Linked DNA regions of Homo sapiens. The protein of the gene in region 2 purifies or fractionates together with the protein of the main gene of each other region. This does not show direct contact. Each region holds a gene or a part of one and is shown on either strand. Other genes may lie near its edges.

What was found.
Region 1: the proteins of STX7 (region 2) and PTTG1IP purify together in Homo sapiens (affinity purification with mass spectrometry; 4 studies listed by BioGRID and IntAct, with this or other methods). This does not show direct contact.
Region 3: the proteins of STX7 (region 2) and VAMP4 purify together in Homo sapiens (affinity purification with mass spectrometry; 5 studies listed by BioGRID and IntAct, with this or other methods). This does not show direct contact.

Annotation. Positions count from the first base shown.
Region 1 is NC_000021.9:44,863,597-44,867,250, forward strand, and holds part of PTTG1IP (pituitary tumor-transforming gene 1 protein-interacting protein isoform 1 precursor), read right to left. Parts: intron 1,852-3,654; coding exon 1,799-1,851; intron 1,793-1,798; exon of another isoform or gene 372-1,792; intron 274-371; exon of another isoform or gene 197-273; intron 1-196. UniProt on the Homo sapiens protein: May facilitate PTTG1 nuclear translocation.
Region 2 is NC_000006.12:132,468,019-132,471,672, forward strand, and holds part of STX7 (syntaxin-7), read right to left. Parts: intron 3,583-3,654; coding exon 3,445-3,582; intron 2,609-3,444; coding exon 2,556-2,608; intron 2,030-2,555; coding exon 1,933-2,029; intron 458-1,932; coding exon 385-457; intron 1-384. UniProt on the Homo sapiens protein: May be involved in protein trafficking from the plasma membrane to the early endosome (EE) as well as in homotypic fusion of endocytic organelles. Mediates the endocytic trafficking from early endosomes to late endosomes and lysosomes.
Region 3 is NC_000001.11:171,731,931-171,735,584, forward strand, and holds part of VAMP4 (vesicle-associated membrane protein 4), read right to left. Parts: intron 1-3,654. UniProt on the Homo sapiens protein: Involved in the pathway that functions to remove an inhibitor (probably synaptotagmin-4) of calcium-triggered exocytosis during the maturation of secretory granules.

The DNA.
Region 1 (3,654 bases), on a different chromosome or scaffold from region 2:
GTTACACAGGGTACTATGGCAAAAACGCACTCTAGGCTACAAAGCCACATACAATAGTGAGCTATGTTTAAAGCTGAAATGACTTCCAATAGAAAAATCCAGAGACTAAAAAGAAGCACCATCTAGAAAATGCACCAGGACCAGGCGCATTAGAGCAGGTTCAACATCACCAATGTCAAGATCTGAAACCACAGAAACAGCGTCTTTCAATTTTTAATCAGCAAATGCAAGTATCCACTTAAGTCCCACAAACTGACAGGGTGTGTCTCGAACCTACGCTACGGTCTCGTGGAGGAAGAAGAGTTTTTAAGAACATGGCTCATGCCTTAGAATAGAAATCATCGAATACATCTTTCCCGGCCTCCTCAAACCTACGCTACGGTCTCGTGGAGGAAGAAGAGTTTTTAAGAACATGGCTCATGCCTTAGAATAGAAATCATCGAATACATCTTTCCCGGCCTCCTCATATCATGAAACCTCATTGCCGGGGAAAGGAAGCCTCTGGCCCTGCAGTTCTCAAAACCTGGTAAACTCCTGACTGGAAGGGGCAAGGGGTGGGCGAGATCAGGAATCCTAAGAAAAAGGCCCCACAGGATGCTGTTTTCTGCCTAACCACTTCCCGCTGCCGTGGGCCTTCCCTCAGGTTTCCCGTGCTGATTTCATAGCGCTGCGAGGAGACTTGGGTGCTGCCGAACCAAGAGCTGCGTGGCAAGGCAAGCCCAAGAGGTGCCAGCCAGGCTGGCCCAGGCGCAGGCCACCACGCAGAGAAAACCAAAGGACCCTGTTCACACGTTTTTGTTTTTGTTTTTGTTTTTTAAAGACAGTTTTTTGCTCTTGTTGCCCAGGCTAGAGTGCAGTGGCACAATCTTGGCTCACTGCAACCTCCGACTTCCGGTTTCAAGAAATTCTCCTGCCTCAGCCTCTCAAGTAGCTGGGATTACAGGCACCCGCCACCACGCCTAGCTAATTGTTTTGTATTTTTAGTAGAGACGGGGTTTCACCATGTTGGTCAGGCTGGTCTCCAACTGCTGACCTCGTGATCCACCTGCCTCGGCCTCCCAAAGTGCTGGGATTACAGGCGTGAGCCACTGCACCCAGCCCTGTTCACACGTCTTTAACAAGACCTGCACTGTGATGCTGCTTCCCCACCACGGGTGCTCCTTCTTCCAGGTGGGCATCTGCATCAGTCTCCATCGGGAAGGCACCCCGGGGAGTCTCGGGCCCCACCTCATGCCGTGGAGGCTTAGGGAACTTTGCTCCAGACCGCTACCCTCTTGTTGAAGGTCACACAGGTAGTTAAAATCCAAACCTGAGCCCCAGGTCACGACCAGAGAGTGCTATGGACAGCCTGGCCCACCGGCCCAGAGGGCTGGTGCCTCTCTCTCCTTGCTGTGCCCCTTCCAATCCTGTGTGAGCAGCTGAGAAAGCAGTCTCTGCTGCAGCCCGACAGCCTGGGAAAACACGGGCTCACAACCTGAGGGTGTAGCTTTGCGGACAGCCAAATTTCTCGCTATGGGCCTCGTTAGGAAGACTGGCCACGCAGTGCTGGCCCCATCTGCATAGGAGTGAAATCATGGATACTGACCATGCTCAGACAGTAACTGCAGTTTTCATGAGAAGGTTTAATATACCTGAAATGGCTAAAATAACATTTGATAACGATTCCAAAAAACATCCCCCCAAATCCCAAACAACAGAGCCCTCCACACATCCCAGCGAATCCCTGGACCTAGAGAAAGCCCGTGTGCCTTTGGACGGTCTGGACGGCACTCTGGTCTCTAGTCCACGTGCTACTTACGGAGACGTTCTTCAGGCACTCTTCACAGGTTTTGTTTGTGTTCTGAGAACAAGCTGCAGGAAAGAGGCAAGAGACAAGTCAGTCACTGAGAATCAGGCAGTGTAAATATTAGTCCAGCAGGGCAGGGTGGGCACCAGTGAGGGGTGTGGCACCAAGAACCTCTGATGTGGAATTACCAAATGAAGGTCCTCTTCCTGAGCCCCTGCTGATAACAAGCCTTCTTCAAGACATGTGGAACGAGTGTTCAGGAACCCCGCTGCAGGCAGGGCACAAAGAGTATAAACATGCGGCTCCTATCCACAAGGGCTCTTCTGGGAGAGAAGAGTGCCAACACAGAAGGCTGTGTTTCAGATCTCTCTGTGAGAGGAAGTGTGCCCTGTGGCTGTGTAATCACTAACCACAAACCTGCTGGGACCTTCTGCTCATCAGCAGGCACTCTTTTGGGAACCCAAGAGCCTCCATCCGAGGCCACAGCAACGCCAGCGACACTGCCACGCAGCACACTTGTGTCTTTGGACTCACCTACAGATCTCATGTGACAAAGCAAGGTCTTAGTCCCCTGGTAGCCTCACTCCAGACTGGGCTATGCTCCCTGTACCAACCTGTACCAAGGGAGAGGCCCGGCACACCAGCCTGCTCCAACCACACAGAACACCCTGAGACTCTGCCCACTACTCAAAGCGCTGCTACTAAGGAAGGGGTCAAACTCCACGCAGCCAACAGCTCTGGAACTCAAGCCAGTCAGAAGCAAGAGCGACTGCATGAGTAACTTCCAACATGCAACCAAGCTGACTGCCTACTCCCCCAATCCTGTAACACACACACACACACACACACAGCCTACTCCCCCAATCCCATAACACACACACACACACGCAGACTGCCTACTCCCCCAATCCCGTAACACACACACAGACTGCCTACTCCCCCAATCCCATAACACACACACACACACACAGACTGCCTACTCCAATCCCATAACACACACACACACACACACACACAGAGACTGCCTACTCCAATCCCATAACACACACACACACACACACACAGAGTGCCTACTCCCCCAATCCCATAACACACACACACACACACACGCAGACTGCCTACTCCCCCAATCCCGTAACACACACGCAGACTGCCTACTCCCCCAATCCCGTAACACACACACAGACTGCCTACTCCCCCAATCCCATAACACACATACACACACACAGACTGCGTACTCCCCCAATCCCGTAACACACACACACACACACACACAGACTGCCTACTCCAATCCCATAACACACACACACACACACACACACAAACACAGTGCACGCTGAAAAGAGCTCTGTGCTCATCACCAGTCACCAGACAAAGGCAAATTAAAACTCCAAATGACAGATGACTACACACCTACCAGAATGGCTAAAATTAAAGAGAATGACAATACCAAATGTTGGCAAGGATGTACAGCAACAGAACTCTCACACAGTGTTGGTGGAAGTGTAAATGGCTCAACCATTTGCAAAGAAGGTCTGGCAGCTGCTCCTAAACAAACATGCGACCACCTATGACTCAGCAATTCCACTCTTAGTATTTCATCCAGGAGAGAAGGCGCCTGCATCCACAGATGGACCTGCGCAGGAAGGCTCCGTGACAGCCCCAAGCTGAACACAGCCCAGATGTCACTCTGTAGGAGGGTGGACAGACAGACTGGAACACTCACACGATACCAGCAGGGCATCAAGAATAGCAAACATGCGGCTCTCGTATCAAGGGATCTTCTGGAAAAGGCATTCCAAACACAAAAGGCTGTTTTACGTGTCTCTCCTTTGGAGGTGAGCTAGGCGGCTGTGCAATCACTAACA
Region 2 (3,654 bases):
GCACAGTTACATATACCACAAGTTTCCCCAAAAGTGCTTAGCATGATGACAAATAAATTGGAGTAAGACTAAAACCAGAGGCCCTGGAAATAAGCTGGAATAATGTTTCATGGTGCCTTCCATGGTCTTGGCAGCAATAGGCCCTGATTAAATTTGGGCTTCTGAAATAAATGAAGCTGGTTATTTCAACCAGCACGAGTTAAAAATGAGATCTGTTTTAGATAATGCCAAGGGTGATGCTTACTGTGTTTTATAGACCATGCTTTTGGTTCCAGGGAAACCAAAAAAGGGACAGAAAGTGGTTACTCTTCTGTGAGAAAGTTACAGCAGGTAAAGTGCATGTAGCTTGCTCTCACCTCCAAAATCTAAGTCAGCAGGTCTTACCTATTACATCTCCTTGTTCATGAATCATCATTCCCAAATCTTTAAATATTTCATTAATATCCATAATATCAGCCTAAGAGAAAACGCATATATTATTATAATCAGAAATTCAGTCCCCATTCCATAAAAGAGGAAAAATTTTAAAAACCCAAACCACTACTCACACATGGGTGAGCATGCATCTATAATACACAAATATAATACATAAACTTTGGAAATATCAGGAAAATATTTGACAATAATTAAGAAGAATTTGAACAATAGCCACCAGTTCTCTAAAATCAGTTTGTGGCATTAAAAATACCAAGTGAGCGAGGCAGGATGGAAATGAATGGAAATGAAGGATCTATAATAGAGAAGAGCCATGGATTGCTGAGTTCATTTTATACAACCTGATAGTTTTGTTATCACAAGCAGTATCTACTTACAAGGGTATAAAATATTCTTAGCATGTATTTCTAGTAAAATTTACACATCAATTTGACAATTTAAAGTAATAAAACATTAGGTGTAAATTTAAAGTCTCACATTAATAATTTGAACATGCAGTGGATTAGTGAAATGTCACTACTGAATAAAGAAGTTATAAACTTGGTGATTAAATATAAATTTACTTTTCTTCAATGACACAATTAACTGCTTCATAAAGTTTTTATAAGGACTAAATGAGATAATTAACATAAAGAATTCATCCCACAAGTGCCTGGCACATGGAAGGTCTTCAATAAATTGTAGCCATTGTTAGCTATTATTAGCCTTCTTTCTAGGAACTAAGTAGGTTCCATAAGAACTATGACTTAATAAATCCTTTAGATCTCTTTGATGTCATAAACATAGTAAAGAGAAATAAAATTCTTTGAAGGCCTTATAAAAGGTCTTACTCATGCAGGTATGATGTGTATCATGTGCTCTGGGAAGACATCCAGACTCTTGGACAGACATTTATCTCTACACTGGTATTTTCTCAATACTAAGGTGGTCCATAGATGGCTTGATATAACAATAATAATTTTTAAAAAGCTGCAGTAGGAGGGAGTATGATCCCTCGTCCTAGCACAAACAGTAAGGACAATATTATTTTTTTAAAAAAGGAATTATTCCAACTCATACATTACAAATGCTACCAAACTGATACATTAATTTTCTTTCTCTGGGCCAGACATGGTGGCTCACATCTATAATCCTAGTACTTTAGGAGGCCAAGGCAGGCAGATCACTTGAGACCAGGAGTTTGAGAACAGCCTGGCCAACATGGTGAAACCCTTTCTCTGCTAAAAGTACAAAAAATTAGCCAGGTGGGGTGACACGTGCCTGTAATCCCAGCTACTCAGCAAGCTGAGGCACAAGAATCGCTTGAAGCTGGGAGGCGGAGGTTGCAGTGAGCCGAGATTCCACCACCGCACTCCAGCCTGGGTGACAGAGGGAGACTGTCTCAAAAAGAAAACAAAATTTTTCTGTCTCATGCATTCTCCCAGCATTACCTAAGCATCTTGAGAACAAACTCACTAAGACCAGAGCAGCAGCCCAAGTCTACAATGTAAGCCTTACTTCAAGTTGCCTGATAGAAGATTCTCTCTCATGAATAAGACGGAGGTCATCCTCTGTAATTTCTTCATCCTGCACCTGCACTTGAGGTTGAGTTTGGCTAACAGAAAAAAATGAATGTGGAAAAAAACAAAGATTGGTATTCAAAACAATGGGACTCATTTCCTATTTAAGATATATTCATTAAATAGGATATTTTATTCTCCAAAGTCACAGAACTACTCAAAAAAATTCTAAGAATATAACAGATATATTAATAAAATTTATTCATTTTTCATTTCACTTATATCATTTTAGCTAATGTGAGTTTAGAGTTATTACTTAATTATTGGAAGCTGTATCTGTCAACTGGGTATTTCTTCTCAGCTGATTTAAACCTCATATAAGGGAATGTCTATATTAATAATTAAGTCCATAAACATTTATTTGGAAAACTTTATATATTTTGTAATAAATACTTTATAATTACTTAAAATTTTTTTCAAATTTACTCTGTTTTCAACATATAAACAACTTAGGATATTTATGATATAATATATTGAAAGCTTTAATTCTGTTCCAGGGACCTTAATGTATAAACTTTGAAAAATTACCTTTTGATCTGTAAAATGTTTTGTATTTCTTACCTTTCCCAGGATACAAGATTCCTTTCTTTTGAGCTGTCCTCAGGAAAACTGCCCTGAATAATTTAGTAACAGGATGGAATGAGAAGGGGCAAAAAAAGCAAAAATGAGAAAAAATAAACACTCATATTTTCCCTTATAATAAACTAAACTGATTTATGTACGTGTCTGTGTGTATGTGTGTGTGTGTGTAGAGACAGAGAGAAAGAAGTTCTTGTTCTAATTTTTCAGGTCAACTGCTTCAAGTAATAATATAATTATAAGTAATTTTATATTCTAAGTAGACAAGAAAGGAATTCACTAAATATTCTCAAGGATCAAATAAGTATTATTTAGTTAAAGCTTAATGTAGTCTTGGAATCCATATGTTAATGAATAAGAAAATAACTCATGATAGTTTCTAAGGGAATTTAAAATTAGATTAATTCAAAATTCTATTGTAAAGCTTCCTTTCATTTATTTTCTCCAGGCTCATGTTCATTTTCAATATTGATACAACATACTTGCGCCATTCATCTCCGTCATCTTGGTGTAATCCAGGAGGAAAGTGCTTTCTACACTAGCGTGTACACAAGCAGAAAGCCTCAGTACCAAGACGATGTGAGAATACTACTCAGGATTTGATCCCTAATCTTTTTTGACAAAATATGTCTCTATATTTTTATATACTCTGTAATCTTCTGTACTATGACACAAAAAATCACCACCGTAATACAAAATTATCATCCTTTTCTAAAAATGGAGCAGGAAAGCATAAAAATAAATATTCAAGAGCTGATTTCCAAGATATTCACAGATCTTTATGACTTAAAAAATTATGCTACTATAGACTTTTATGGGACCCTTAGCAAGTAACCATGTTCATTTCTAGAATGTCTTTTAAAATACTTACAGACACTCTGGAACTGGCTCTTACTCGAGCAACAAACTCTTTCTCTCGCTCAGCAGCCTGCCTCTGGACCTTCTGGAAGTTTGTCAGTGATGTTGTGAACTCTGCCACTAAGCGATCCTTCTGTATTTTCCTTTGACGCTAGAGGAAAGAGAAGAAAAAGCCAACTAGAATCTAGCTGTGAAGTTCAACTGAATTTGCGGTAGTTGGCTC
Region 3 (3,654 bases), on a different chromosome or scaffold from region 2:
AAGATTTAATAGCAACGAATGTTTAAATACCTAATAATATAGCTTAAAGTATCTTACAGAAGCTGCGCAAATTATGAGAAACAGTTACATCAAAATCATAGGGAGGATTTAACATACCCTTCAGAGATGGAGAAGCCAAACACACAAAAAAATCTAGAACTTTGAAACTAGACAGCAAATTTTATTTTATTTTCCTTTATGGGTAAGCCACAAAGGACATTTAATAAATTCCAAAAAATAGAAATTACACAAGTCATATTCTCTGACCATAATGCGATGGAAAAAGGAAGTTTTAAAATACTCTTCTCAGCTGGGTGCAGTGGCTCACACCTGTAATCCCAGCACTTTGGGAGGCCAAAGTGGGGGGATCACTTGAGCCCAGGAGTTCAAGACCAGCACTGGCAACATAGCAAGACCGTGTCTCTATGGGAAAAAAAAAAAAAAAAAAAAAATTTAATTAGCCAGGCATGGTGGCTCATGCCTGTAGTCCTAGCTATTCAGCAGGCTGATATGGGAGGATCTTTTAAGCCCAGGAATTTGAGGTTAGAGTGAGCTATGATCATGCCACTGCACTCCAACCTGGGTGACAAAAGGAGACCCTGTAGCAAAAAACCTCACAAAAAACAAAAAACATCCTTCTCATTAACTTTTATGTTAAATGTAAATAAAGGTGATTAGACTATTTTGAAATGAAAGACACTGGGAAGATCACAGGTCAAAATCTGAAGAGTATGGCCACAGCAGTACTTAAAGGAAAATGGGACCTTAGACATATTTTGTTATGAAATCACAAAGATTGAAAATATATAAATAGTTAACTCTTAAGATGGGTAAGTTATTCCTAAACAACACACAACTCCAGAAGTCTGAAAGAAAAAGATTAACATATTTGATTATATAAAAATTTAAAACTTGAACATAAGACATCAAAAACAAGGTTAAAAAACAAGCAACAGACTGGGAAAAAACATCTGCAGTATCCTTTAAGACAAAAGACCTGATGTCTGTATTATATAAAAAGCTTTGACAAACTAGTAAGAAAAAGAGACATTATAGAAAAACAAAGAATAGAAATAGATAATTCCCAATAGAAGAAATGGCCAATGACCACATGAAATGTTCAAAACCAATTAATATTCAAGGAAATGCATTAGGTCATTTTTTAAATAAATATTTCTTGAGTAATATTCTAGCTAACAAGTAACAGACAAGCATTACATTTATAATATAATGTATTTGGTTTATGGCCGGGCATGGTGGCTCACGCCTGTAACCCTGGCACTTTGGGAAGATGAGGAGGGAGGATCACTTGAGCCCCGGAGTTCGAAACCAGCCTGGGCAATACGGTGAAACCCCATCTCTACAAAAAAAAAAAAAAAAAAAAAAAAAATTAGGCGTGGTGGTGTATGCCTGTAATACCAGCTACTCTGAAGGCTACTTGGGGGGATTGCTTGAGCCCAGGAGGAGGCTGCAGAACCCTGATCGTGCCACTGCATTCCAGCCTGGGTGACAAAGCCAGACCCTGTCTCAAAATAATAATGATAATAGTAATAGTAATAATTTATTTGGTTTAGAGGATAATGATACTAAAGATATGTTTACTATAATTGTACACTGAGAAACACACATGAAAACCAATGCTTTTTCATATATTAATTGAATAAACACAAGTGCTAGGGATACAGTGTCAAAAAAGAATAATAGGACACAATGAGATAATATTTCATACCCACTAGGCAGATAATATTAAGTGTTGGTGAGGATGTGGAGAAATTAGAATCATCATACATTGCCGGTGAGAATGTAAAAATTGTACAACCACTTTGGAAAACAGCTGGGCAGTTCTTCAGAAGGCTGAACAGAGAGTTACTACAATACTCAGCAATTCTACCTTTAGGTATACACCAAAGAGAAATAAAAACATGCTCAAACAAAAACTGGTATGCTAATGCTCATAGCAGTAGTATTTAAAATAGCCAAAAGTAGAAAAAAACCCAAACATCTATGAACTGATAAATGGGCAAACCAAATGTGTTATATCAATATAAGGGAATATTATTAGCAATAAAAAGGAATGAAGATCTCCCAGCACTTTGGGAGGCCGAGGTGGGTGAATCACCTGAGGTCAGGAGTTCGAGACTAGCCTGGCCAACATGGTGGAACCCCATCTCTACTAAAAATACAAAAATTAGCTGGGCGTGGTGGTGTACGCCTGTAATCCCAGCTACTTGGGAGGCTGAGGCACGAAAATCACTTGAACCCAGGAGGTGGAGGTTGCAGTGAGCCGAGATCGCACCATTGGACTCCAGCCTGGGCAACAGAGGGAGACTCCGTCTCAAAAAAAAAAAAAAAAAAAAATGAAGCACTGATATGCACTATAACGTTGAGGAATCTTAAAAACATTATGCTAAGTCAAAGAAGCCAGTCACAAAAGGCTATATGTTATATGATTCCATTTACAGAAAACGTCCAGAATAGACAAATCTATAGGAGTGCAGTTGCTTAGAGGCTGAGGGGATAAAGAAAATGGGAGATGACTGCAAAAGGGCACAGCATTTCTTTTTGGGCTAATGAAAATATCCTAAAATTGATTGTGGTGATTGTTGCACAACTCTGTGAATATAATAAAACTCACTGAATTGTACACTTTAAGTGGGTGAATTGTATGGTACGTGACTTTTATCTCAATAAAGCTATTACCAAAAAAGTATAATAGGAAAGAGGAACAAAACTTTTAAAAGATTTTAAAAGTAATTTATATATTATTCTAACCAATCAGTTATCAAACTTCATAATATAATAAACATCAAAAAGGAGTTCTCTTGAAACAGTCAATTTTATTCAGTTCTGGTGTCTAATATACTAATAATCAATGAAGAATATAAGGAGAAAGTGATACAATTACAGTCTCAGCAGTGGAATTTATTGAGACAATACATTTTAAATTTAAAAATGTATTCATAAAGCTTATTTATTTGTATTATTTTTAATTTAAGGTTTACTATTGTTTTTCTTGAAGTAATTTTTCCTGCCCTTGTTATTAGGGTGGGCTTTATGTACTATTTAATCTGATTTCCACACATATTATTAAACTGGTATTTAATATCTACAAATAATAATTTTGTCACTATTTTCTCAGGATTATGACCAACATGCCATGAAACTGTGATCCTAGTATATCACGCCTGGACTTGATTTTTAAAAAGCAATCATATTCAAGTGACTGTGTCCTTAACAGTGATTCCATTAAGTGAACAACAAATTTACGTTCAGCAGTGATTGTGAGAAAGAAACACAGGGGAACTTAGGAAATATAAATAGTTTCAGTTTAAAATCATGTAAAAATAAAACTATAAAATTAATGGGATTTGCATCAATTAAAAATTATTAAATAATATACTCTTGCATACTATACATTGAATTTGGCTACAACCTTCTCTGCTTTACATACATTTTTCAAAATTGACATAGATTGTATGAATTACAAACAAGTTCCGAGAGGTGATTTTACTACATACATTTCCATACTTCAGTCTTCATCTTACACAAAGGCAGATGTGACTTAGGGGCTCTCTGTCCAGGACTGAGGTATTTACCTGACATATCTCAGATATCAGTCAATCAACTGTCAGCATTTATTGATCATCTTCCAGG